Linked DNA regions of Homo sapiens: region 1 is linked to region 2. Evidence: fine-mapped expression QTL. A gene starts in region 2. The other region holds a variant in brackets. All regions are shown on one strand. Distances are from middle to middle. Region 1 has its middle 28 kb from the start of ARL4A. Region 2 holds the start of ARL4A (ARF like GTPase 4A).

Region 1 (12,941 bases), 27 kb before region 2:
GCATGGTGGTAAGCGCCTGTAATTCCAGCTACTTGAGAAGCTGAGGCAGGAGAATCCCTTGTACCCCATAGGTGGAGGTCGCAGTGAGCCGAGATCACACCACTGTACTCTAGCCTGGATGACAGAGCAAGACTCTATCTCAAAAAAAAAAAAAAAAGAGAGAGAGAGAGAAAGAGAAAAAGGAGGCATGTCAGAGAGATGGGGAAGACACAAAGTAAAAAGAACTGGGTGGCTTGGATCAAGGGTGAGAGGGCGGTGACAGAGAGAGAGCCACATGGCATGAATACCAATTTTCTGACTTGGGCAATGGGATAGCTGGTAGGAAATGAAGCTGATATGGAAACAAACACTGAGAGTTAAGTTTTGGAGTTTGAATTGCCTGCAGAACTTCCAGGAGGACACATTGTAAACGTGGCTGGGTACATAGGTCTGGAACTTAACAAGAAGTTAAGGCCTGAAATCAGAGTATGTAAGCAACATTGATCCCCAAACTCATCTGACCACTAAACTCTTTGTCTAAAACGAAAAAGTTGTAGGAAAAGTTTATAATTCTCTCCTACTGGGAAAATTTGGAAGCTTTATCAGTGTCTCTTTTCTTCCCCATTTTTTTCAATAGTCACTGGAAAAAACAAGGAAGAAGGCAGAGCAGGAGCTCCTACCTGAATCTTCTCCATAGTCTATTATTTTACCAGAGATTTTTATCCATTTGCTTGAAAACAGGTGGGAATATCACTCAGAAGGATAGATTTTATCTAGTTAATACAAAAAATATTTTATGATTCATCCTGTTTTTTTATTCCCTACTTTTCATAAGTTTGTGAATCTCATTGCCAGTGACTTGGTTTTTTCTCAGGTTGTTTTTTTCTTTTTTTGAGATAGAGTCTAGCTCTGTCACCCAGGCTGGAGTGCAATGGCGCGATCTCAGTTCACTGGGACCTCCGCCTCCCAGGTTCAAGCCATTCTCCTGCTTAGCCTCCTGAGTAGCTGGGACTACAGGCGCATGCCGCCACGCCCAGGCTAATTTTTTGTACTAATTTTAGTAGAGATGGGGTTTCACCGTGTTTAGCAGAGATGGGGTTTCACTGTGTTGAGGGGTGTTGAGGACTACCGTGTTGCCCAGGCTGGTCTTGAACTCCTGAGCTCAGGCAATCCACCCACCTCAGCCTCCCAAAGTGTTAGGATTACAGGCGTGAGCCACCACGCCTGGCCATGTTCTCGGTTTTGATGTATAATTTGGATTAAAGAGAGAAAAGGGAAGAAATTATGATTGTACCATATTTTGTCTTGTGATATTTTCAATAATCAAAACAATTTAGCTGTCATGTGAAGAATTCTGTCATCAAGCAGGCAAAAATCAATCCACAAAGAATGATAAGGGCAATGTTTATCCTGCGAAGCAACAGGCTGCTAAAATATTGCTTTCATTTCTCTCTAACGGCAGCAATCCTACAGAAAAAAATATCACATCATTTATTCTTGGTGTGATGTAAGTTTTTTTTAGGGTCTTGCGGCGGGAGGGGGGAGGCGGTAACATTGCACAATTTTTTAAAGTAATACTTTTAAAAGGGAATTTCCATAACAACCCTGTAATTATTAAGTGGAAATGGCTTCATTGCTAGACAGGAAGGCCTATCCCAGCCAAAAAAAAAAAAAACCCTCAGTAGATTTCCGTTTGAAAATTACTCTTGAGAATCTAAAGTAGTAAAAATAAGTAAAGATTATTCTAGTTCATGCAGCTAGAGGCTTCTCCCCCTCATTTTTTAGCATGAATGCCACTTTCTTTTAGAAAGATAGATTGTACAAACCAGCTCTCCTTCTGTGATGCGCTTAGTATGGATGAAGATACAAAGGAAAGGTGAATCTTTATCATCCTTCAAACTTTCATTGAATTGTCAAAATTAGGAGCATTTGCTCTTTTTTTTTTCTCTCACTAGATTTCTTCTGTTTTGGGGAATTCCTATAATTGTGCTCTCCCCACCCCCACCCCCACCACCCACAGTGACTCAGGATCATATTATAAAGGTTACAGTTGAGACAATTTTAACAGACTCGGGTTGAATTTGAGGGTACTTAGTCATCATAGCTTCTAGTATATTTGATTACTCCCTAAAAGGCCTACTTGGCAAGTGCACGTTGTCTAAACTCGGCTGGCACATTCAGGGAAAAAATAAAGTAAAATAAAACCTGCTGGACTGATCTTGAAGAAAGGTCTCATATCAAGGAGGGATGGTAAATCACATAGGCCAAGTTATTTCTTAATCAGTAAGAAAAAGACAAATGATAGAGCAGAAAAAGAAGTCTTTGGACTACAGTCATGACTGATAAAAGCATGATCTTTCCTTTCTGATTCTTTACATGAATGTGCAAGTCAAGGGCGTCAGGAATATAAAAACTCCTGAAAATTTGGCAAGGCTGTGTAGTAAACATTACTGGGAAGACTGCGCAACCCATGCATCACCAACTGCCTTCTCTGAAAATTGCCCCACCCATAGCCATGCCTGAGACCTGATCATAGAACATGATTATTATCCTATTCTGCCTGTGGAGGATCAGGATTTATAGCTGACATAGCCTGATCCACAGTGACTTTTCCAGGCCAGGGGCTGGAATTGGGATCCAGCCCTGGCCACCAGCCCTAGGAAAGTAATACACAGCAGAAAAGCTAGTCTGTAGAGAGAGAAGAGAAGAGCTATGGAGAGGTACAAAAACAAAAGACTATGAAATGGCTTGAACAACAAGGTAAATAGTGGTTTAATTAGTTGGACAAGGCTAGGATAGTTAAAAGTCCTTTTCCATACATGTGACAACCATTTTAATTAAACATACAAAGGGAGATGTGGATTAGACATCTGAAACCAGCGGAGATGTCAGGATGGAAGACAGAAATTTTAGACTCATCAGCATAGAGATCGTTTTTAAATTCATGGGGTTGGATGAGGTCAACAATGAATAGAAAATGGATAGAGAACAGAGACTGAAGCAAATCCAAAATGCTGTAGCATTTGGCAATTGAGTAAAGAAGTAAAAATTAGCAAAGGAGAACAAGCAGGAACAGCAAGAGAGGTAGAAAGGAAATCAGTTGAGTGTGATATCACAGAAGCCGAGAGAGTAGTGTTTCTAGAAGGAGTGATCAAATCAGCTCAATCTTACAAAAACAATTAAGATAAAAATATTAACACTTCTTGGAACTATTTGTATTTAGTTTTTCTTATCAAATGAATGTTATTTATACTGATTTTGACTGATATTAAGGTTTCATATCTAAAATAAAAATATAAGTCAAAAACTTTTTAAATGCCTCAGACAGACCCAATTGGCTTTAGTTAAGAAAAAAATTGGTTCAAGCCAGGTGCAGTGGCTCATGCCTGTAATCCCAGAACTTTGGGAGACCAAGACAGGTGGATCGCTTGAGCCCAAGAGTTTGAGACCAGCTTGGGCAAAACAGCCAAACCCCATTTCTATAAAAATATAAAAATTAGCTGGATGTGGTGACTTGCACCTGTAGTTCCAGCTACTTGGGAGGCTGAGGTGGGAAGATTGGTTGTGCCTGGGAGGTGGAGGTTGCAGTGAACCGAGATTGTGCAACTGCACACTTCAGCCTAGGCGACAGAGACAGACGCTGTCTCAAAAAAAAGAAGAAGGAAGGAAGAAAAAAGGAAAAGAGGGACGGAGGGAGGGAGGAAGGGAGGGAGGGAAGGGAGAAAAAGAAAAAAGCGGCTGGGCAAATGGTTCATTCCTGTAATCCCAGCATTTTGGGAGGCCAAGGCAGGAGGATTGCTTGAGGCCAGGACTTTGAGACCACCCTGGGCAATACAAACATCCTGTCTTATGCCTAGTGGATGTGTCTGTGTGGACGTGCACACACATTGGCTGATGAACCCCCCTTCCTGTTTTACAAACAGGCTCTACAAACAGACAAAATATATTTACAAAAAAGATACATCCATCTATACACACACATATATTAGCTGTCTATACAGCTATCTCTACAAACAGACAAAATATATTTACAAAAAAGATACATCCATCTATACACACACATATATTAGCTGTCTATACAGCTGTCTCTACAAACAGACAAAATATATTTACAAAAAAGATACATCCATCTATACACACACATATATTAGCTGGGTAGCCAGGTGTGGTGGTGCGTGCTTATAGATCTAGTTACTTGGAAGGCTGAGGCAGGAGGATCACTTGAGCCACAGAGTTTGAGTTTTCAGTGAGCTATGATTGTACCATGGCACTCCAGCCTGGTACGGGGTGACAAAGCGAGACCCCATATCAAAAAGAAAAAGAAGAAAACAAACAAACGAAAGGGTAGGAGCAGGTTGTTTTACAACAGTTTTTTGTAATAACTAAAATTGGTAGGTGTAGATTAGTCTAGGTGTGAGATTCTAAAAAGAAATGTCATCATGAATGTTTTCTGAGAGTCACTTTGAAGAAGAGTTAGGATATTGTTTGATGGATGATAATGAATGTCCATTCCAGGGAGGGGGTCTGAATGCAAAAAGGAAGACTTAAAAGAGGTCTGCACAGCTGGAGCAAAAATGATCCCCAAATAATTTTATGAAAACTGTTGCAAAGCAATAAAAGAGGCAATGGTGATTGTGCCAAGCGTATGCGGGAGAGAGCTTGTTGGGCCAGTGGAGAGAGGTGCTTACTTGTCCGGTAATATTTATCAGCACTTCCCCTACACCATCTAAATAAAAACAACGTGCTTCCTAAGTCAGCACTTCAAAGCAAGTCTTCTGACCCCCTAGTTTGACCAGACTGGCCTCCAAGCCCTACTTTATGCTAAGGCTGCTGTAATTAATGGGCCACGTTTCTTAGCAGATGCAATCTTGAACTCTGGAGACTACCAGATCTTGCTAGAAGCTCTGTTCTCCCCATTATTAACAGTGTGGCCATGTCTAGAGATTTAACATCTCTAAGCCTCTCTTCCCTCATTAGTGAAAAGAGGATTACAGAAGTGACTTCATAAAGTGATGCTGAGAATAAAATGAGAAAATGAGCATAGCATTTAGTATAGTGCATGTAATCACCATTCAGTAAAAGGCAGTTATTTATAGTTATTTGAATTCAAAATGTAATAATTATGTAAGATGCATTTGAGTCTGTAACAGGGTTTGAGGAGAACAGGAATACAATTAAAATCTCATGAAGATGATTGCTCCCAGGCTGGAAGGCAGGGGACTTACGCTGCCAACTGAAGCTCAGTGTCCAAATTCAGCCGTCCTTCCGCTACACCACTTCTTTCCTACAGCTGCCTGTGCACCAATGGTCATTTACTGACCGTATATATGTGTGTGTGTGTGTGTGCGTGTGTGTGTGCTATACATGGATGTGTGGGGTTTGTTTTGTTTTTAAAAAAAAAGAAAGAGTAGGTAGGTGTATGCGCCCCTGTGGTTCCAGCTACTTGGGAGGCTGAGGCAAGGGGATGGTTTGGAGACCGGAGTTTGAGCCAGCCTGGGCAACATAGTGAGGCCCCCTGTCTAAAATAAATAAATGAAACATAAAAAATAAATGAATAGATTTTTTCTAAATCAAAAAGCATTATTCCATTTTTTTCTCACTGTCATTGAAATTTTTTTTGGTAATAAATGGATTTCTGAGCCTGTTTTAAATGACAGGGTCTGTTGTTCAAAGCCCCACTAGCACGGTAAGCCATTAAACCAGCAGTTGTGAAGCTGCATTATAACACAGGGACAGTCACTCAGCTCAACACTTTACATTACAATAGGCAAGCCTCTGTGAGGCAGCTTTGAAATCCCAGAACTGTGGTCAAACTACGGACCTCCTGGAAGGACAAAGTGTTCTGTTTGTGTAGCACAAGGGTGTGGCTTTTGTAGCTAGTAAAATAATCTGAACACAAAGGCCTCCAGATCCTGCAGAGCACTCTGCAGTGAACTGACTCAGCGGAAAGCGGTGGGAAAGGAAGCTGGTTCTTAGATTTCAGAACCCTCCAAAGCTACACCCACCTCGCTTAGTTCTGACCCTGTGCAACAGGAAGGGGGTTTCATCAGCCAATGTGTGTGCACGCCCACGCAGACATATCCACTAGGCAGAAGACAGGATGAGAAACGCGGTGGGAAGGAACTCTAGTGGAGCCCAGTGCCGTCTCTTTGCAGCCTCTTGCCAAACTCCTGCTTTTTCTTCCTTTCACTGATGCAAAACCTAGTTGCTCTCATGGATTGAGGGAGGGAAGCCCTCTTATGATGTGGAGCCACTTTTAGCAACTGCTCTGAAAGAGGCTGCAAAATCAAACATCCCAGTTAGCATTGGGTGGATTGCTGAATATTGTGAAATAATCATAGAAGCTTTGATTGTCGATGTCCACTGGAGATCTGTGTGCCGGGAGCAAAATATTGGTATGTTACACATTTCATGTACGCAAATTAATTGGACAGTTAAAATCTATCAAAGGCGTCAATGGTAGGCTTTTTCTGTTTCTATTCACACACAGCCCCCACTGCCACCACCAATTTAGGCTTCATCTCAATAAACAGAATACATGTTTAGAAACTTATATAATTTAAAACCCTCTGATCCCTGAAAATTAAGAAAAAGGGGTCTGAATTTTTCATAATCAGTCCATATTGAATAGATTCCCCTCCTAATTGCTCAATTTTAATTTCATCAGATCATTTTGCCTAAAGACCACTTAGCCACCATCACCAAAAAAATGTGTAAACTTCTTGTGAAAAAGACTATACATATCAATGATCTGTGGAACTTAAATTCCAAGGAAACACATATTCAGAAAAAAAAA[T/AT]CATTCACTAGGATAAACCAGAAACACTATATTGATTTACCTTTCCTGAAACTACTAAAAAGTCCAGTAACTTAAGAACACATTTTTAAAATTTAATTCATTAAATTACATATAATACATTTCCAAAAAAGTTCAAAATATGCATGGACAGTTAGCAGAAGCTTTATTGTGAGATTTTTGCGAAAAAAAATTTATAAAGTTAACCCCAAAGCAACCTAATATGTTGATAGTCTCCTGCAAATTAAAATTCAATACACTATTGAATATTTTTATTATAGTTTTGAAAACAAAAGGTTAAAATACCTATAATTGGTAAAATATATGACTTCCCTTCCCTTCACCAAGATTACTAAATGTAATAGAGTGGGTTTTGTGTATGTGTGTTTGTGTGTGTGGTTTTTGTTGGACAGCGATTTATTTCAAAGCTTTTCTTTGTATAACTAGATTACATGACTCCTTTTCTAAATGTTCTGAAGGGCACAATTGGGAGCAGTAAAAGATAAACTGCACTGTCTATAATTATGTGATAATAGAACTCCAAGAAAGGTGAAGTTTCTTACAAAGTATATGGGAGTTAGAGAATATTTCTATCTACAATGTACTGTCCTTGAGAATGAACATTTGTCTTTGGAAGATGTGTATTCACCCAAACAGTGTGTACTGAATATGTAGTATACACTAGGCAGTGTTTTAGGTTCTAGGAATACAGTGGGGAACAAGGCAGAAAACTTTCCTACTCTCTTGGACCCCATAGCCCAGTGAAGGAAGACAAACATTAAACACATAAACAACTAAGTAAACAAGAAAATATCAAGTCATGGTAAGTGCAAGGAGAAAATTACAACAGAATGTAATTTTACTTAGCAAATAAAAATGCAGGAGACTGATTTATATGTGTGTGTGTGTGTGGATGTGGAAGGATGGCTGGATGGATAGATAAGAGAGTTCAGGAGAGAGAGACACACACATCAGGACACACTACCCCAAAATATGGCACCTTGGCATATTGAATATTTTAAGCTGAAGGAATTTGAGAAAATAGCATAAGCAGGAAGGTCTCTGTGAAGTTCCGCCTCCCTTCTCCCCTGAAGCAGATCATAAAACCTAGGAAGCATGTTCTGACCTTCCCTTGAAGCAGTGCATAAGATCCTTATGTGAGAGGTGCTTCCCTATTCCTGGAGGAAAGGAATATCCTTATCTCCAAGGACACAGAGTCACAGAGAGTAATCTGAACAAATAAGCCTTGACAAGTTTCTCCCAGCTCATTACATGTAGCTCATATCCCCTTTGTCCTATCATATTTCTCCATGACTTTCCACTCTTCATCAAACCTACTATGGAAAAACACTCAAGTTTAAAACTGTTTATTGAGTTTTCATTTCCTTCTGAAGGTTCCCTTGTCACGGAAAACTGATATTAAATAAATGTGTATGCTTTTTGCTTGTTAGTCTTTCGTTTGATACAGGGGTCTCGAGCACTGAACCTAAAATAAGTAGAGTAAAACTATTTTTTCTCCCCTACAATACACACACACTCTTAATGCTGCTAGGACCGTGGTTCCCAATCATGATACCGTGAACCCACAGGAGTGTTATAGTGTTTTTAAATTTTTAGGGGAACACAGAAATATCAGTCAGACACTACACAAACTGCTACTACTAAATTTGGGCCTAACTACTTAATAAACGAATGAGGTATTCCTATTTTCCTAGAGTCACCATGAAAAAATTACCAGATATTAAGGGTGGAATGAACTAGGAACATTTGAGAATCTTTGTGCTAGGAACATCTTTAATGGCTATGTGTGTACATAAGAATGGCTTTGTTGCATTGTTTTTAAATTAAATTGAAACCATATTAAAAAGAAATACTTTCAATCTGTTTTTCTTTCTTCAAAACAAATTTTACAAACTTACTCTAAGCAAATCCTCAACTAGATTTTCATATTTCAGTTTAGCATTTATATTTACTGCCATTGTGACTTGGAACATATCATATTACTTTTATGCCTCAAATTTTTATATTTTAAAAGACCTATATTTATTATGATTGCAGATATTGTAACTTAAAATATAATGATTTTAGATATTTGTTGGCAAAAATACAGAATATGTTATGTTTCTTGATCTTTGTGTTACAAAAGTTTAAATGAATAAACTAATGTACAACTTATAATTTTATTTCTGCCATGTAATATTTATACCAGTAAAGTTTAGCAAATGATAAACAAAATTTCAATAAGCTTACGAAATTGCTGAATTTCAAAATGAAAGTCTATTGTCATTTCATTTCACCTGCTGGGAGACAGACACACTAGGTTTTCCAAGGAAGATAAGAACATACTGGAAGATTGCTGTGAAAAATTTAAAAGAAAAGGTACCAACTCCATGTCCTCTGTCAGACTTTATAGTTTTAACTGTACATTACCAAACATTTAAGAGTCAACAGAATTCAATTACTTGCCAAATCCTTATACAATGTCATTAGCTAACAAATCTGAGGACAAAGGTCTCCCTAACCATGTTACAGGATGTTCCTCCAGTGGTTTCGATAGTTTGCTAATTATCTACATTACACAAGAGTCATGAGCATTACAGAGGCAAGTCTAGCCTGCTATGCTTTATTACTGCTATAATTACTGCTGTCGTTTTCTCAAGTACTTTCAGTAAATGCTTGTCAAATGACAACTTTAGCTGGAAAATTAATCATTATTTTAAAATCAATTGTTATTGTGAGCCTTAATATTTCTATCACTAAATGCAAAATAATACTTATTACCTTTTTTCCTGAGACTGTGTAATAAGGGTAGTATTATAATTTGCTGAATTTTATGCTTGATAGTATCATTGTGAAAATATTTTTCTTACTAATAACAATCCAGAACGGAAACACTCAGAAGAGTATTTTCCTTTAACAACTTTGAAAACAAATTTTCAAAAATTTTTATCTACTCACACGACATTTACCTTTTTTATCAGTTGTGAGTGAAACCAACAGGAATAAAATGAAGGCCTTAAAAGAATGAACAGGCCGGGTGCGGTGGCTCACGCCTGTAATCCCAGCACTTTGGGAAGCCGAGACGGGCAGATCACGAGGTCAGGAGATTGAGACCATCCTGGCTAACACGGTGAAACCCCATCTCTACTAAAAAATATACAAAAAAATTAGCCGGGCGTGGCGGCGGGTGCCTGTAGTCCCAGCTACTCGGGAGGCTGAGGCGGGAGCATGGCGTGAACCCGTGAGGCGGAGCTTGCAGTGAGCCGAGATCGCGCGGCTGCACTCCCGCCTGGGCCACAGAGCGAGACTCCGCCTCCAAAAAAAAAAATTAGCCGGGCGTGATGGCGGGCGCCTGTAGTCCCAGCTACTCGTGAGGCTGAGGCAGGAGAATGGCGTGAACCCGGGAGGCGGAGCTTGCAGTGAGCCGAGATCGCGCCACTGCACTCCAGCCTGGGTGACAGAGCGAGACTCTGTCTCAAAAAAAAAAAAAAAAAAAGAGAATGAACAAGGTGGTTGTGCTTGACTTGGTGACTCTCTGGTTTTAAAAGTAGCAGTGAAGAAACCATCTAGATTCAAAGTAAGTAATGATGAGTAATTCTACCTACACTAAGATAGGAGTCCAAGACGTTGACTGAGGCAGAATTTCTAGATACATAGAAACGAGCAGAAACCTAGAGACAAAGGGACTGCCAAGCTGAAGTCGTTCGTGTGGCTATTCAAACATTTTGAGTTTACATGAATTGCCTATGAACTCTGTGAACTTCTAAGCCATAAGAAAAGTGTCGGCCGGGCCGGGTGACTGACGTCTGTAATCCCAGCACTGTGGGAGGCCGAGGCAGGTGGATCACCTGCGGTCAGGAGTTCTAGACCAGCCTGGCCAACATGGCAAAAACCAGCCTCTACTAAAAATACAAAAATTAGCTGGGCGTGGTGGCTGTAATCCCAGCTACTTGGAAGGCTGAGGCAGGAGAATTGCTTGAACCCGGGAGGCAGAGGTTGCAGTGAGCCGGGATCATACCACGGTACTCCAGCCTGGGCGACAAGAGCGAAACTCTGTCTCAAAAAAAAAAAAAAAAAGAAAAGAAAAGTGTTACTGTGCTGTGTCCAAGATATAATCATAATGAGCCCTTCATGCAAACTGCATCCTGTTACAACCAGCTTTCAATAGGCCTGAAATGCTTGTCAAGATGTGACCCATTATCCATGTCCCATATCAAATATACACAGATGATTTCAGTAGTAATACTACTACTTAGTTTAAGAAGTATTTTTATATTATAAAATATATAATTGGGGTAGTGGTATGTTTTAATATTTAAATAATTGTCCATTTCTATAAGGCATAGAGAAATGTAGCTTTAGTGGATTTTGTATTACATGACTATTCCCTTTTTTATCATCTCAAAGCATATTTTTTCTTTCTAAATTGATTTTCTTTGAAAATTGAACATATCAAGTTTTAGAAGGCCAGTACTGAGAAGGCATAATGGCTTCCTGAGCTAGAATCTGAGACTCAGTTATTACAACAGAGAATCTATTTATCTCTCTGATGATTTAGGGCAGAAAACAGGTTGAGAATCAGTAGTCTGGATTTATTTATTCTATTTGCACAATGTAATACTGAACCAATTTCTCCAAGTGCCTAACTTCCTTTCTTGGAAGTTATGGAGCAATAACTTTTAATTGGAGAGTGATAAAACCAACCCACATTCCACATTGTTGAGATGCTTAACTAATAAGCATGTTTTAAAGGCACTTACACAATGGAGAGCCCTTTAACCAAAAAAATAAAAATTGATTTGCCTACTAAGTCCATTAACTGTACATAATGACACAATTTATTTGCACAAGAATTTTAGAATATTGGCAGTATTGGGTAATATAAAGATTTTGAATAGTGGCTTTAAAAGCCACCAAAAAATACAGTACTAAAAAAATTATATGGTATTAAATATAATAAAATTCCGTTCCATTGCAAAGTCAGAGGTTATATGCAAAATATGCGAAAGGCTCCCAACCTGAGGGCTGGAAAAAAACAGGGCACCAGGCCTATAAGGAATAGTTGTGTTTCCTGTTGCTCAGTAACTGTCCTGACCATGAAGAGAGATTTCACTGTGTCTAATTTTTTCTGGTCCTCTATAGGATGACTAAAGCAGAAGAAAAGAGTTAAGAAAAAGCCAGAATTCAGAAGACCAACTAGAAATTAACCTTTAGCATGTGGATCATTACTCTTAATGAAGAGAAATCATTCTGCTGCTTATGCAAAATCTATTGGTCTCTTCTGTGTTATAGTGTAGCTCAGTTTCTTCCTGAAACTCTTTGTATTCCTCTACGATAACTCTTCTACTATTATAGGAATTATTAATATTTTAACCTGTCTGCTTGTTTTATCATATCTGAACTCTGCAGACTTTGTCTCATTCACCTTTGTATGCCTAATGCTTGTTAATGTGTGAATATATAAAGACAAAATATTAGGATGTATTTTCAAGATTTTTTTTTTTTTTTGACACAGTCTTGCTGTGTTGCCAAGGCTGGAGTGCAGTGGCACGATTTCGGCTCACAGCAGCCTCTGCCTCCTGGGTTCAAGCAGTTCTCGTGGCTTACCCTCCTGAATAGCTGAGATTACAGGCGTGTGCCAACATGCCCGGCTAATTTTTGTATTTTTAGTAGAGACAGGGTTTTACCATGTTGGCCAGGCTGGTCTCGAGCTTCTGACCTCAAGTGATCCACCCGCCTTGGCCTCCCAAAGTGCTAGGATTATAGGCGTGAGCCACCATGCCCGGCCTATTTTCATGATCTTAAAAAACTAAGAATAAACTCGATTCCCAGAACCTTACTTCTATACATATAAAACATGCAAAAATCTACCTTTAAATTTTAATTTAGATTTCAAAATGTGTTATTCTCTTTCTTTCTTCCTCCTCTTTCATTCCACCCTTTACTTTGTCCTTTACTTACTATTCGTTGAAAAAGCAATTAGGTAGGAAGTCAGTCTAGCAAGCTTGGTAGATTAACTACATATGGGGGGATTGAGCAATTAATACAGTAAGATAATGGAAGCCGTCATCATCTTACTGTCAGAGAAGGAATATATGAATATGACAAGGAATAAAACTATAATAAAGTCTGTGGTGACAGGAAATAGGAATTGGAGGTGTTGGTGTGT
Region 2 (12,941 bases):
GATTAAAGTGGAATAAAGCAAATAAACAACTGTGTGTTGCTCATAACTAATATTTTTGGCATGAGTGAAAAGAGATAATAATATCACTGAAACTAAATAAATGCCTTATCATTCTGAATGTAAATCTTTGAATTGGAACTATCACTGTGAATTAATAATGTATCTAATCTTAAAAAAATAGAGTTCTAGTACTATCCACTGAAAAGGCCTAGAAACAATGACAAATCCAGTAATAGACTGTGGACTCTAAATACCATTTCCTAATACAAGGAACCTGGCATCCTAGAAAAACAGATCTGGGACAGGAAATGTACAGGTTAAGGGACTTTGTGTTAAATGAGAAATCAAAAAAGCCATCAAAAACTACTAGGGTTCTGTGAAAAAGACTCAGTTCTCTCTAAAGATGAGACAATTTATGCATAAATGGGAATAATAAGCTGCAAGAGATAGAAATATATCAATATATCAAATATATATATATTTTTTGAAATGGAGTTTCGCTCTTGTCACCCAGGCTAGAGGGCAATGGCGCAATTTTGGCTCACTGCAACCTCCGCCTTCTGGGTTCAAGCAATTCTCCTGCCTCAGCCTCCCGAGTAGCTGGGACTCCAGGCATGCACCACCACGCCCAGCTAATTTTCTGTATTCTCACGCCTGTAATCCCAGCACTTTGAGAGGCCGAGTTGGGAGGTTCACGAGGTTAGGAGTTCGAGACCAGCCTGGCCAACATGGTGAAACCTCGTATCTACTAAAAACACAAAAATTAGCCCTGCATGGTGGCAAGTGTCTGTAATCCTAGATACTGGGGAGACTGAGGCAAGAGAATGGCATGAACCCAGGAGACTGAGGTTGCAGTTAACTGAGATCATGCCATTGCACTCCAGCTTGGGTGAAAAGAGCAAGACTCTGTCTCAAATAATAATAATAATAGAAATCTAAACACTGGATGGATATTTGGTTATTTTGAAGAAGCATATTTTTTTTACATGTGAGTGAAATTTTTTTAAGTGATTATCTTTTAGACACATATACCACTATTTATAAATGAAATGTAATTTCCAGAACTCACTTCAAAATAATCTAGAAGTGGAGGAAAAAGGAAGGTGGCATGGAAGGAAGTGAATGGAAGTATAGAGGAAACCAGATTGGCCCTGAGTTGATAATTAATGAAACTAGATGACAGATACTTGGGTGTTTGTTATATTATTCTACTTCTGTATAAGATTGAAATCTGTCATAACAAAAAGTTAAGATTTTATCTAAAGGTAGACCTTCACTGAAATGAATCAACTTCAACATCTCTCTTCAACCACTAATACAGGTAATCTCCACTTCAGTGCAACATAAACAGGAGACATAAAACAAGACCAAAGACTGAAAGTAACTGGAAAATAACACAGCACACATAATCACCCACAAACACAACCACCATCATCAACCAGATGTGCCCACAGATACTGCAAATTTGATCTTATCATTCGATCAAATTTGTGAATTATAGATAACAATCTTGAGGCATTTTGAAGAACCATAATATATAGTTTCAAATTTTAATGTCTGAAAAGTGAGGTATTGTATTTTGATATATGCCTACACCAGAAAATAACCGAGATTTTAAATTAAATTTTATCTCTTACAGGGAAAGGTAAGATAATATTGTGTTACAATAAATTGGTACTTTAGAAACCTAAGTACCATATGATCCCTTGAAATGATCCATATTTCAAGGGAGTTCAGCATATTTAGACTTTCACTAAGTTCCACCAAGTTGCCATTTTGTGACATGTATGAGCTCACTATGTTATATTCCCCTGCCAAAACAAGTATTTTCTTTAAATACGTTGATCATAAGGTATTCTGGCTATTAATAACTATCAATTGAATGCTTACTAAAGTGTCAGTTACTCTGCTAAATATCATTGCTTGATTTAATCCTTTTAATCAGTTATACCCCAGTGGTAGATATATATAACCCACACTTTACAAATTAAGAAACTAAGGCTGCAAGTAAATTGCCCCAGATGAAATAATAAACATATTGATTCCTACTGGTTAACAATAGTAGGTCAGTTTTTATCAAATGCTTGGCAATATGTGAAAGTTTGTACATGTTATTTCAACACTCTCAAAATTCTATGAAACAGTCTTCATTTAACCAGGAGGGCATTCTCATCATAAGTTTCAAGGAATTTGCTAAAGGTTCATGTGTAATAACGGGAGAGCCAGGATTTGAACACTGATCTGACTCCAAAGCTCATGTTTTTAGCCAGTACATTTAACATCCTCCTAAACTAGCTTCCTGTACAGGTATTCCCATATTTTTAATGTGCATGCACAGAATTGAATACATACTCTGGCTATGGTTTGTTGAGACTATTACTTCTGATCTTCATAGATTTTAATATTAACATTATGATTTTACATTTCCAGAATGTTCCGCCAAATTTAAACCTTAAAGGTAAAATTCCAGCTTCAAATGATGGTGTACTCAAGATTCTCAATTGCATCAGCTGAATGCTGAGTTTTTACATCATATAAAGTTTGATAAAACTTTTTTTGCATCTTTATTATCGCTGATGAAATCATTGTTTACATTACAGAGGAAATTGTTGTATTAAATAGAATCTTGAAAAACCAAAGATTTCCTTCAAGGTCACCATGAATTATTAATGGAACAATCCTTGCATCAAATGTCTTGTACAGGCTGGGCATGGTGGCTACTTTCTGTAATCCCAGCACTTTGGGAGGCTGAGGCGGGTGGATCACCTGAGGTCAGGAGTTCAAGAACAGCCTGGCCAACATGGCGAAACCCCATCTCTACTAAAAATAAAAATTAGCTGGGCATGGTGGTGTGCCTGTAATCTCAGCTGCTTGGGAAGCTAAGACAGGAGAATCACTTGAATACAGGAGGCAGAGGTTGTAGTAAGCTGAGATTGTGCCACCGCACTACAGCCTGGGCAAGAGAGCAAGACTCTGTCTCAAAAAAAAAAAAAAAATGCCTTGTACAAACAAAGTCTATGCCTTTCCCTCTGTTGATAAACCATCACTCATTTACAGACCAGTAATTATTCTTATATATTATATATATATTTACATTAATAACTTCATTTTTTTGTCTCCCTATAAAGATTTAGTTCATTTTTCCATGATTAAGTCTTAGTAAACTTCTGATGGTTTAAGAATACCATTTATAAACCATTTTAAGAACTCTGCACATTTTAAAAATTATCTTTAACTATCAAAAGGTTTTATTTTTCTTACACTTTGTTCTTTGATATTAACTTGGATTCAGTTGAGCAGTCCTTAATATTTTGTATTAAACCAAGTAACTTCAAATACAAGAAAATATTTTAGAACTATGCACTAGAAAAGGTGCGCCATAAGAAGAAACTAGATATGAAAGCATAGTCTAAACTCTTCAGAATTTAAAGACTCATTATACTACAGTGTTAATAACTAGAATAGGCGGTAGGGAACTTGAACTTAGCAAGCTAGAAAATCTTAGGATGGGTTTTATAGCTGAAATTGTCTTTTATAAATCAAAGTTTGTACAGTGTTCATACCATTTTCTCTTTTGTTGTCCATGAAATATGAAAAACTTAGATAACATTAATTTGTTTACGTACTTAGGCTACAAAGGGTCAACACACAAGCTTTTGAAATACTTAAAAACAGCACTATTTTACATAGTAGGTAGACAGAAAGTACAGGCAAACTGGTAAATCTAATTGATACACAGATTTTTTTTTTCAGCAAGCTTTATTAATCCATCATGGATCTACTCATGTTTGCAGCAGATACCATGATTTCAGTATCAGTGAAGGGAGAAAAAAAAAAAAACAGCCTTCAATGCCTGTCACATCTAAGCAGATCTGAACTACTATGGGACTAAATAGCCTAGCTGGTCAATTGTTTTTACACATCTGATTAAAAGCTTCAGCAAAAGTGGAAATACATTAAAATTCAAAGTCAAATACTGTTCTCCTAGTGCCTCAAGTAGTTTATTGGTAGTTATTATCCACATTTCTATAAACATTCTAAGTGACCATCACTAGTGCAGGAATATTTAACATATGAAGGCTCCACATCAAGCTACTTCATTCATTTTGTGTGACACAAGAATCAAGGTTCCAAAAACTGTTATGCCACTGAAAAAAAAAAAAAACAAAAAAACAAAACCCAAAGCCAAAACAAATCCTGCTAGCAAAGTGCATTTCTTTTGGTGATTTTTCAGAACAGCTGTTGCTTTAGACATAAAAAATAAGCTGATTTAGTAAAATATGGTCACTGGAAGTAAGTGTCTGTAGATAAGAATTAGATAAAGGCCTTTCCTCCTTATAGAGCTTTTTATTCCAATGTAAACAGCACCAGTGAATTTTCATAAAACAGGTTTGTTATTTTCCCCTCATTTTCTATAATTGTAATTCTTATCTGCCATACTGTTACCATTTCTTCCTCTCTATAATCAGGACTGGACAGCCCATGTAACACTGTTCAATTTGTAAACAAAAAATTAAAGCTCGGAACACATACAGGTTATCTTTTACATTTTCATTCTACAGCGCATCAGGTATATTTATAAAGCTTTTGCTCTTCTCAACACACTACAAAAATATATAAAAACCACATTTGTTTTTAGCCAGCAAATATTAATAAAACAAATATCTTGTAACTGGAATATTTTAGAGACCACATATTTTAATTACATCCTCTTGACTAAATCGCCTTCTTCATAAATCCATATATGTATCCAGTGCATATTTATTAGTTTACATGCCCATATTTACTATGAATGAGTCAATCATTTTAGGTTCTTCAAGTGAAAGTGCTTCTGACAACAAACTATTCCTATAATAGCCCTAAATCCCCAAAAAAGTTGTTTTAAACCTGTGTAGAACGATGCATAGCTATTTCTAAAAAGTAAGACTACACACCAAAACATGCTTTGTCAGGAAAACTAATCCATGCACTTGAATATACCCCAAATATCTTATTTTTAATAAAGGTAGACCAACTTAAACATTGTCTAGAATTAAGCTATACTATTAAATTACTTGATTCCAGAAAGCGTCAAAAATCATTTGGCAGAAACTTAAAAAAGAAAATACTTACTCCTTGTCCCTTACTTCAAAAAAGGACTGGTTGGACCAATGTGATCAATATAACTGCATATATGTTAATCTACCTTAACATTTCCATCGATTAGCACTTGATCGTTACAAAGCCTTGTATGCAATTTTCTTGCAAAGGCTTCCCCCCGAAAGATGTAAGCACAAAACACTAGGCAGACACTCTTTAAAGTTTTATTTCACTAACTTCAGACCAAATTCCCACAACTGTGTTCTGGTCAATTTACTATCCTTGCTTGGCTTCCCCAAATGGTAGTACCAAAAGATTTGTGGGGTAGGGAGAAGAGACCACTTTAAGAAGCACTGCATTTACTCATCTTCCACAAGGCAACAGAGTTGGGCATCTGATTGTTCAACAAAACAAAGCTTTAATAGCATCCAGGAGGGCAGACAGGCAAACCACGCTGTAGACACTCTTCTATTTGTCAAAATCAGACCAGAGAAAACCTACTCCACACAGATATAATAGGTATTGATATTCATCTTTTCTTTTTCTGTTGCCGCAACATTTTTCTTCTTTTAATGATCATATCATGTAGTTTCTCAAGTCCTTCCTTTAGGCCATCTCCTATGATTGCACAGGTAGGCTGCAAATGCCAAGGAGTTGATGAGCTCAGTTCACCCATTGCTAACAATTTCTCAATTTCTGAAAGTGACAATGAGTTCCTCAAATCTTGTTTGTTAGCAACTATAAGTACAGGGACTCCCTGATTTTCTGATATCCTAGTTATTTTGTGAAGTTCAGTTTTGGCTTCTTCCATCCTTTCGACATCAACAGAGTCCACAACAAATACAATGCCATCTGTGCATCTGGTATATGACTTCCACAGTGGCCTTAATTTCTCCTGACCACCTACATCCCAGAAGTGAAAAGTGACTGTTTTAGAATTTCCCAAGGTTACCTTAATTTTCTCAGTGTTAAATCCTTTGGTAGGTACGGTATTTACAAATTCATTGAACTGCAGCCTGTATAAGACAGTTGTCTTTCCAGCACAGTCCAAACCCAGAATAACAATGTGGAAAGACTGAAATGAAGGCAGGTTGGACAGGATAGAAGTCTGGTCTGACAGCCCATTCCCCATTTCCAGGTGCAAATAAATGTCCCAAATTGAAATGCTTTTCTCTTCTTGGTTTACAACTTCTCTTGGTAGCTGATCCAGCTATAAGACTGCTGGGAGACGGAAGAAGGAATAAGTTATTCTCCCGAAATAATACATTAAAACAGGTTTGCTCTACTTTGCTAAAATAAACAACACGAAGAACTTACTATAACTTGCTGCGCTAAACAAACCAGACGAGATATGAAACGTACATGAAAACACACACAGTCCAAGACAAACGATGGAATAACAGTGATTGAAATTATCTGGTTTACTTAAATTGCAGTAATATGTACGTTTTTCTCCTGGGTCCCCAAACCTCAAAGACCTCATTCTGGAAAGAACCCAGTCACCAGTATCTGGTCTAAGTGGCCGTAACCACAAAGTGCCTATCTGGCAGAAAACTCATAGCAGATAGTCCTATCTTCGGAATCTAATTCCACATGCTTAACAGCATACCCAAGATCACTATTACCTCCTACCCCTTGCAAAATAACAACGTTCTCACCTCCCGATCTGGAGTCTGGGTCCAAATGAGAAAGCATTGGCAGGCGTTTCTACGCAGGGATAAGCACCCTTCCAGCTTAGCTCTCCAAGCAGCTCTGGCAGTTGCCGCACGAGAAACCTTGGACTCAGACTCCGACCACGCCCACTCCTCCCGGTCCACTCATGATCCCAAATCCCATTGGTCACCCGCATCAGGGAAGCCATGCAACTCCCGCCCCCGCTCCCTAATTGGTGAGGGTAACTGCCGCTCCCAGCGCGGCGGAGCTGAGCTCTCTCTCGGTCCACCGGCACCACCTGTTGCCCTTAAGTTAGAAAAGGCGGCGTTCCCAGAGGGAGCCGAGCAGCCGCTGCAGGTGAAGGGGAGCCTCGGGCGGTCAGGTCGCCGCCAGGCTGCCGGCTCCGTTCGGCCCGGCGCACCTGCAGCGCAGCCAGGGCGTCAAGCCAAGGCTCTCACATCCGGGGCCCGCAGTCACTGCCAACGCGTTAACCCTTTGTCCGCGGGCCCGAGGGTGCCGGCTGTTGCCGCGCGGGCCCCTGAGGCGCTAGAGATCCCACCTGGCGCGCCCGCCGGGATAAGCCCATCCTCCCCGAAGTGGGATCCCTTCACCCTGTCCCTCCGCACACGACCGGCTCTTCTCCCTCGGCAGGGCGTGGCCGCCCCGGCCGCCCACCCCGCCGCGGCTCACCTGACTAACCGTCCTTCCCTCTTCTTCATTCAGCGTCTCTCCCAGCCGCTGGGGAGGCGCGCTGATACCTGTTCCCTGGCACCAGGGAGGCGTGGGCGATGGCAGAGGACTGGGCGCCTGGCGGGCGCCGCGCGCCAGGCTGCCCTAACGGTGCTCGCCCGGCAGCTCCACGCGACAGTCCCCGCCCCCTGCCCGCGCGCCGCCCGGGCGCCGGCCTGTAGGGGGCGCGCAGGAGCCGCGTCTCCTAGCAACGCCAAAACAAGGTCGAGTTCGAATCGGCCTAGCGCTGGCTGCCCGCGAGGTCGGATGGGACTTCCGGCCTCACCCCTGAACGGTTGCTCCGGGTAGCTCTGTCTGCGGCGGCCCGCCAGCCTGGCACAGGCCCCGCCCGGCACCGCCTTCCCTCACGTCGTCTAGGGCGTCCGCGGGGCAGCAGCCACGTGATTCGCGGTTAGGGATTCCATAGTTCACGGGTTACGGCACACACGCGTTACGTATATATCGAGGTGACGTGGAAGTCCCCCAGTAGTTGACCTTAAACAGCCTGGGTTGACTGGCCTGGTAACTGCGCCTTCATTCGCTTTTTGTAGAGCAAATGAACGCGCTGTCTCACGTGTTTCTAGCAGCATCCCGGGGAACTGGCCACAGATAGAAATATTCCAGTTTGACACATAAGGAAATACACTCTGAAAGATGAAAGGGATGTTTCTTTTTTTCTTTTCTTTCAAATTGCTCACACAATTTTAATTGCAATAGATATAATTTCCAATATACCATTCAACTACACCATTTGTATGTGCTGGAGTGAGACAGGAGTATTTTGATTGAGTGTCCAGTTCTCTTTAAAACTAGCGTTTGCAGTTAACGACTTGGAAAATACAACACAAAAAGCCATCTAGCCTTTTTTTTTTTTTTAATCTCTATTTATCCCTTCAAAATTCCCTTTGTGGCCATATACATACTAGGTGGCTCTACCTGCAGAAAGCTGCATTTTCCAAGCAGCGGGAGAGTTTAATTCTTAACTTTCCTGTACTCCAGCCTCTGCTGGCTCCCTTGCATTTTTGTTTCCATCCTCTTCTTTGTCTTCTGTGCCTTTCGTTCTAGGTTAATCTGCGCAAGCTCTTCACTTTTGTCTGAATGTATTTTAGCGGTGAATTACTCCTTCTGGCTAAGAGCTTCACATCTTCAGTGTTAATGGTGGTGGTTTTCGCATGTCTTGCACACATTTCTAGATCTTGCACTGTCGAAAAGTCAGCTCCGAAATTGCTGCAATGATAAGTTTGCTGAACTGCATCTCTGCCCAATGCCACTTCCTCGCAAAGACAACCCACAGTGTAGTCCACTGCTGCCTCCTTTGGCCTCTGTTGGTAAGAAAATGGCTAAGAAAATCGCTGCTGCTCCTCCACCTCCACCTCCTCCTCCATCAGAACGGCGAGGCAAACGCGCAGAACAGAAAGGGGCTGTGGGGCAGCGGCCAGATTGGATTTTCTCTCCGCAGCCCCAAAGGGATGTTTCTAATGACCCAAGGAAAATTAGTGGTGGTCCTGGAACTGTTCATCTAAGTCTACTAGTCATCAAATGCAAAATGCTTTTCATTGGATGATTCTGACTAAATTTTGTCTTTGATCAATAAGTTCACAAATATTTATTGAACACCTAATAGGCAGTAGACACAATTCTGTGTGCTTGGGGATAAAATGGTGAGCAAAATACACTGTCCCTGCCCTTGTGGAATATTGGAGTCTCTATGGATGACTAAATTTATAAAATGTTTTCAGCGGTAATTTCAGGGTGCTTATGACAACCTGCAAAAGAAGTAATGACTTGAAGTTGTAGGAAAGCTTTAATCGACAAACATCTTTTTGGTGAAGGCTGTAAGACTGTAACTTGGAAGAACCTATATGGTACACTTTTTTAAAAGTGTGCTTTTTTTCTTTTTAAATATGGATTGGAGTTTCCTCAAGAAATATCCTAGTTTTTCTCAAGACCGCTATTGCCAGTGATATTTATTTCTTTTATGACTAGCACAGGAACATGCATACTTGTCATACCGGATTCTTTAAAAAGTCGAGACCAACCTGGCCAACGTGGGGAAACCCCATCTCTACGAAAAACACAAAAAATTAGCCAGGCGTGGTGGCGGGCGCCTGTAATCACAGCTACTCAGGAGACTGAAGCAGGAGAATCGCTCGAGCCCGGGAGGCGGAGGTTGCCGAGCCGAGATAGCGGCATTGCACTCCAGCCTGGGCAACAAGAGCGAAACTCCGTCTCAAAAACAACAAAAACAAAAACAAAAAACGACGTAAAAACCTAAGTTCTGAGCACAATGCATAATCTCAAGACAGCCACACTAATTTTGGGAATAAGAGCTAGAAATATCAAATGGCATATTCTATAAACATGAATCTATTATAAACTAAGGATTGCCTGATTAGTTATAATTGTGAAATCTCATTAGCCATTCACATAATCAGCTAATAATTGATAAAGGGCTTAGTGCAATAACCTATTTCCTTTTATTGGAAATTCAATAGGGATTCTTTATTAAACTGGGATAACTTGCAGATTCTCCTTAAGTCAAGAATTTAGAGCAAGAAAATTCTGTGGCCACCCTCTGTTTACAGTAGTTTTGAAATCTCTAAGTCCTTCCAGTGTTCCTTGCACAGTCTTCCCTGGAGCAAAAAGGGAAAAAAGGAAAACAAAAACACTGAGGGCTTCCAATCTTGCAGAATCGTCCTCACTGAATTGCACTTTAATGTTATACCCTAGGTTTTAAAACTACAGTAGTGGTTGGCAAACTGCAGCCTGTAGGTCAAATTCAGGAGATAAGAATGGTTTTTACAAGTTTAAAGGGCTGCAAGAGAATGGATAAGAAAAGAATATGCAATCAAGATCATCTATGCCCCCCACAACACACACATACAAAATAAATGTGCTCTCTGCCTCTGTAGAAAAATGTTTGGTGTGCCTGTTCTATATATAAAAACCATATGAAAACAGCAACAAATGATATTAAAAGCAATGGAATTTGTGGAACACAAGGTTCACTTTGTTGCCTGATCTTATAGAAGGCCCATTCAGAGCTTTTACTTACATTCTATGCCAGAAAAAAATTCCCTTTAGGGCCTGTAGCTTGTAAATAGTGCTCTGGGGTGCCTCAGAATTCCTAGGGGTTCTGTGGGATAGTTTAACTTTTTGAGGGAAACACAGTGACATCTGTTGGACCATATTAACAACTACAACTATCAAGTTTGGATCTATCAATTTCATAAATAGAAATGTTGGCTATTTATTTTGGCCTGAGGTACCATGAAAAAGTACTGAGGCACTAGGGCCTCTGCGAACCTCACCTTTAATTGTGGTTTTCCAAACTTGGCTAATGATGAGAATCACCTGTTAATGCTTGTAAATGTATAGATTCCTGGTTCCTCCTATTTCAGACCCCCCCAAATCAGAATCATCAGGAGAGGAGCCAGTGATCTGTATTTTAAGTAAGTATTTCAGATAATTAATGATTAGACACTTTGAAGAAATACTAATCATAAGAAATGGGTAAGTTTTCTCCTTTTAAATAACTACAACTGAGTAATTTACTTTGATTCTCTTTTTGAATTAAATATCAGGACCCAGATCAAATCTGATGCCTGTGTTCTGACTTCTAAGTAGAAGCTAAACAATGGATGCACATAGACATGTAGAGTGGAATCATAGACATTGGTGACTTCAAAAGGTGAAAGGGTGGGAGAAGGGTGAGGAATGAAATACTACCTATTGGGTACAGTGTACATTATTTGGGTGATGGCGACACTAAATGCCCAGACTTCACCACTACACAATATATCCATGTAACACAACTGCACTTATACCCCCTTAATCTATGAAAATAAAAATTAAAAATCAGATGCATGTAGCATTCTTCTTCTCTTACATAGCCTGATTTTTTATGATATACATAAGTTAAGCATGCACATACTGAAATCGTGTCCTTCCTCACCTTTGCCACAGCCTGTGTATGTGTGTGTATGTGTATAGATAGATATAGATGTATATGTTTAGGATACCTCACTTTAGTTGTTTCCATGCATATTTATTATGAGAATAATAGAGAATTTCTTAGAGAATTATTGAGAGGGATATAAACATTGATTCCCTTGTATCATTTTATTAGCATCCTTGCTAAACACATGGCCTTCCTCTTTTAGTTCCTGTTTTGGTTGACGGCAATTTATTCAGCAGTTCCAAGTGGAAATTTCAGGGCCATTTAAAAAATTATCCTATATCCCACTTATGATTAGCTATCAAGCTCCCTTTAATTCATGTCTTTCCATTCCCATTTCCACTACTTGGATCTGGTTTTTGTGACCTCTCACCTATACTAATTTACCTCCTAACTGATTTTTCAGCTAAAAAGCAGTGGAGCAGGAGTTTGTTTCCTGTGTCTGGCTCTGAGTCTCTTCTCTTACCCACTGTATTCTAGGGAGTTCTCATTTCGGTTAATTCATTTTGATCCATGGCAGCATAGAGCCAGGGTACAATTTTTGACAAAACTTTAGAAAGAGGATGTCAGAAGGGAAGTACAACCCAAAATTCACTTGGAATGGGTCCTAGATAAGAATTTCCGGAGTCCACAAGTCTAAACCCTCCTCCTGAACTTCTTTTATGGACAGCTTCAAGGCCTAGCTCCACCTAGTTTCAAGTCACAGGACAGTTTGTCCCTTCCTCTGGAAAAGCCTTCACATGCATATCCATACCTGAGTGCAGGTCCAACTGCCAGGAGGCCCAGTGGTAAAAAGGCATTATGCCACACTACAAGAGGCAGATCCAAATATAAGAAATAGGGACACAGAAAGTGAGTCTTGTGTAGTGTGGCATGATGCCTTTTTACCACTGGGCCTCAGAAGTCAAAGCACGAGACGTGAGATGTAAAAGGAAAGCAGCTTTTTTTCAAATGCTGACAGATGGAAGAATGGCTGGGCTCAGGCCTCGAACCATCTCAAGCTTTAGGCTGGGGAGAGGAGTTTTAAAATGGGAACCTGGAATGGAGGCAAGTGGGAGTAGTGCTGGGTACAAGGTCTATGTGTCTTGTTCTGGTGGCTGTCTTGAGTCATGGTCTACCTGGAGTGCAGGCTGGCATCAGAGTCTCAACAATGGCCAGGTTGTAGATTAACCACCTTGAGGTAATCTCTGGAATTTCACAACTGGGTCTTTGTGTCTAGTTTGTCTCAAGATTAGGCCCTGGGGCCAGGGCTTGTGGCTCACGCCTGTAATTACAGCACTTTGGGAGGCCAAGGCGGACAGATCATTTGAGGTCAGGAGTTCGAGACCAGCCTGGCCAACATGGTGAAACCCTGCCTCTACTAAAAATACAAAAATTAGCCAGGCGAGGTGGTGGGCATCTACAATCCCAGCTACTTAAGAGGCTGACGCAGGAGAATCCCTTGAACTCTGGAGGTGGAGGCTGCAGTGAGTTGAAACCGTGCCACTATACTCCAGCCTGGGCAACAGAGTGAGACTGTCTC

Evidence for each region. PIP is the estimated chance that this variant, and not a neighbour inherited with it, causes the effect. A credible set is the group of variants that fine-mapping cannot tell apart.
Region 1: its variant is the best candidate, but not a certain one, in a credible set for the expression of ARL4A in whole blood (INTERVAL, PIP 0.54).

What each region holds. Positions count from the first base shown.
Region 1 is chr7:12,708,818-12,721,758 of GRCh38, reverse strand. No RefSeq gene overlaps it. Among named protein-coding and RNA genes, the nearest start is that of ARL4A, 28 kb to the right of the region's middle. RefSeq lists an enhancer at 5,498-6,165. The variant T/AT (reference allele first, on the strand shown) is at 6,776.
Region 2 is chr7:12,681,525-12,694,465 of GRCh38, reverse strand. ARL4A (ARF like GTPase 4A) reads right to left here and starts at 6,833. Exons shown (of 2, transcript NM_005738.5): 1 at 6,738-6,833; 2 at 3,508-6,300. The coding sequence starts at 6,211. The coding sequence ends at 5,609. It also overlaps the pseudogene LOC100505995. RefSeq lists silencers at 7,269-7,318, 7,519-7,798 and an enhancer at 6,788-7,324.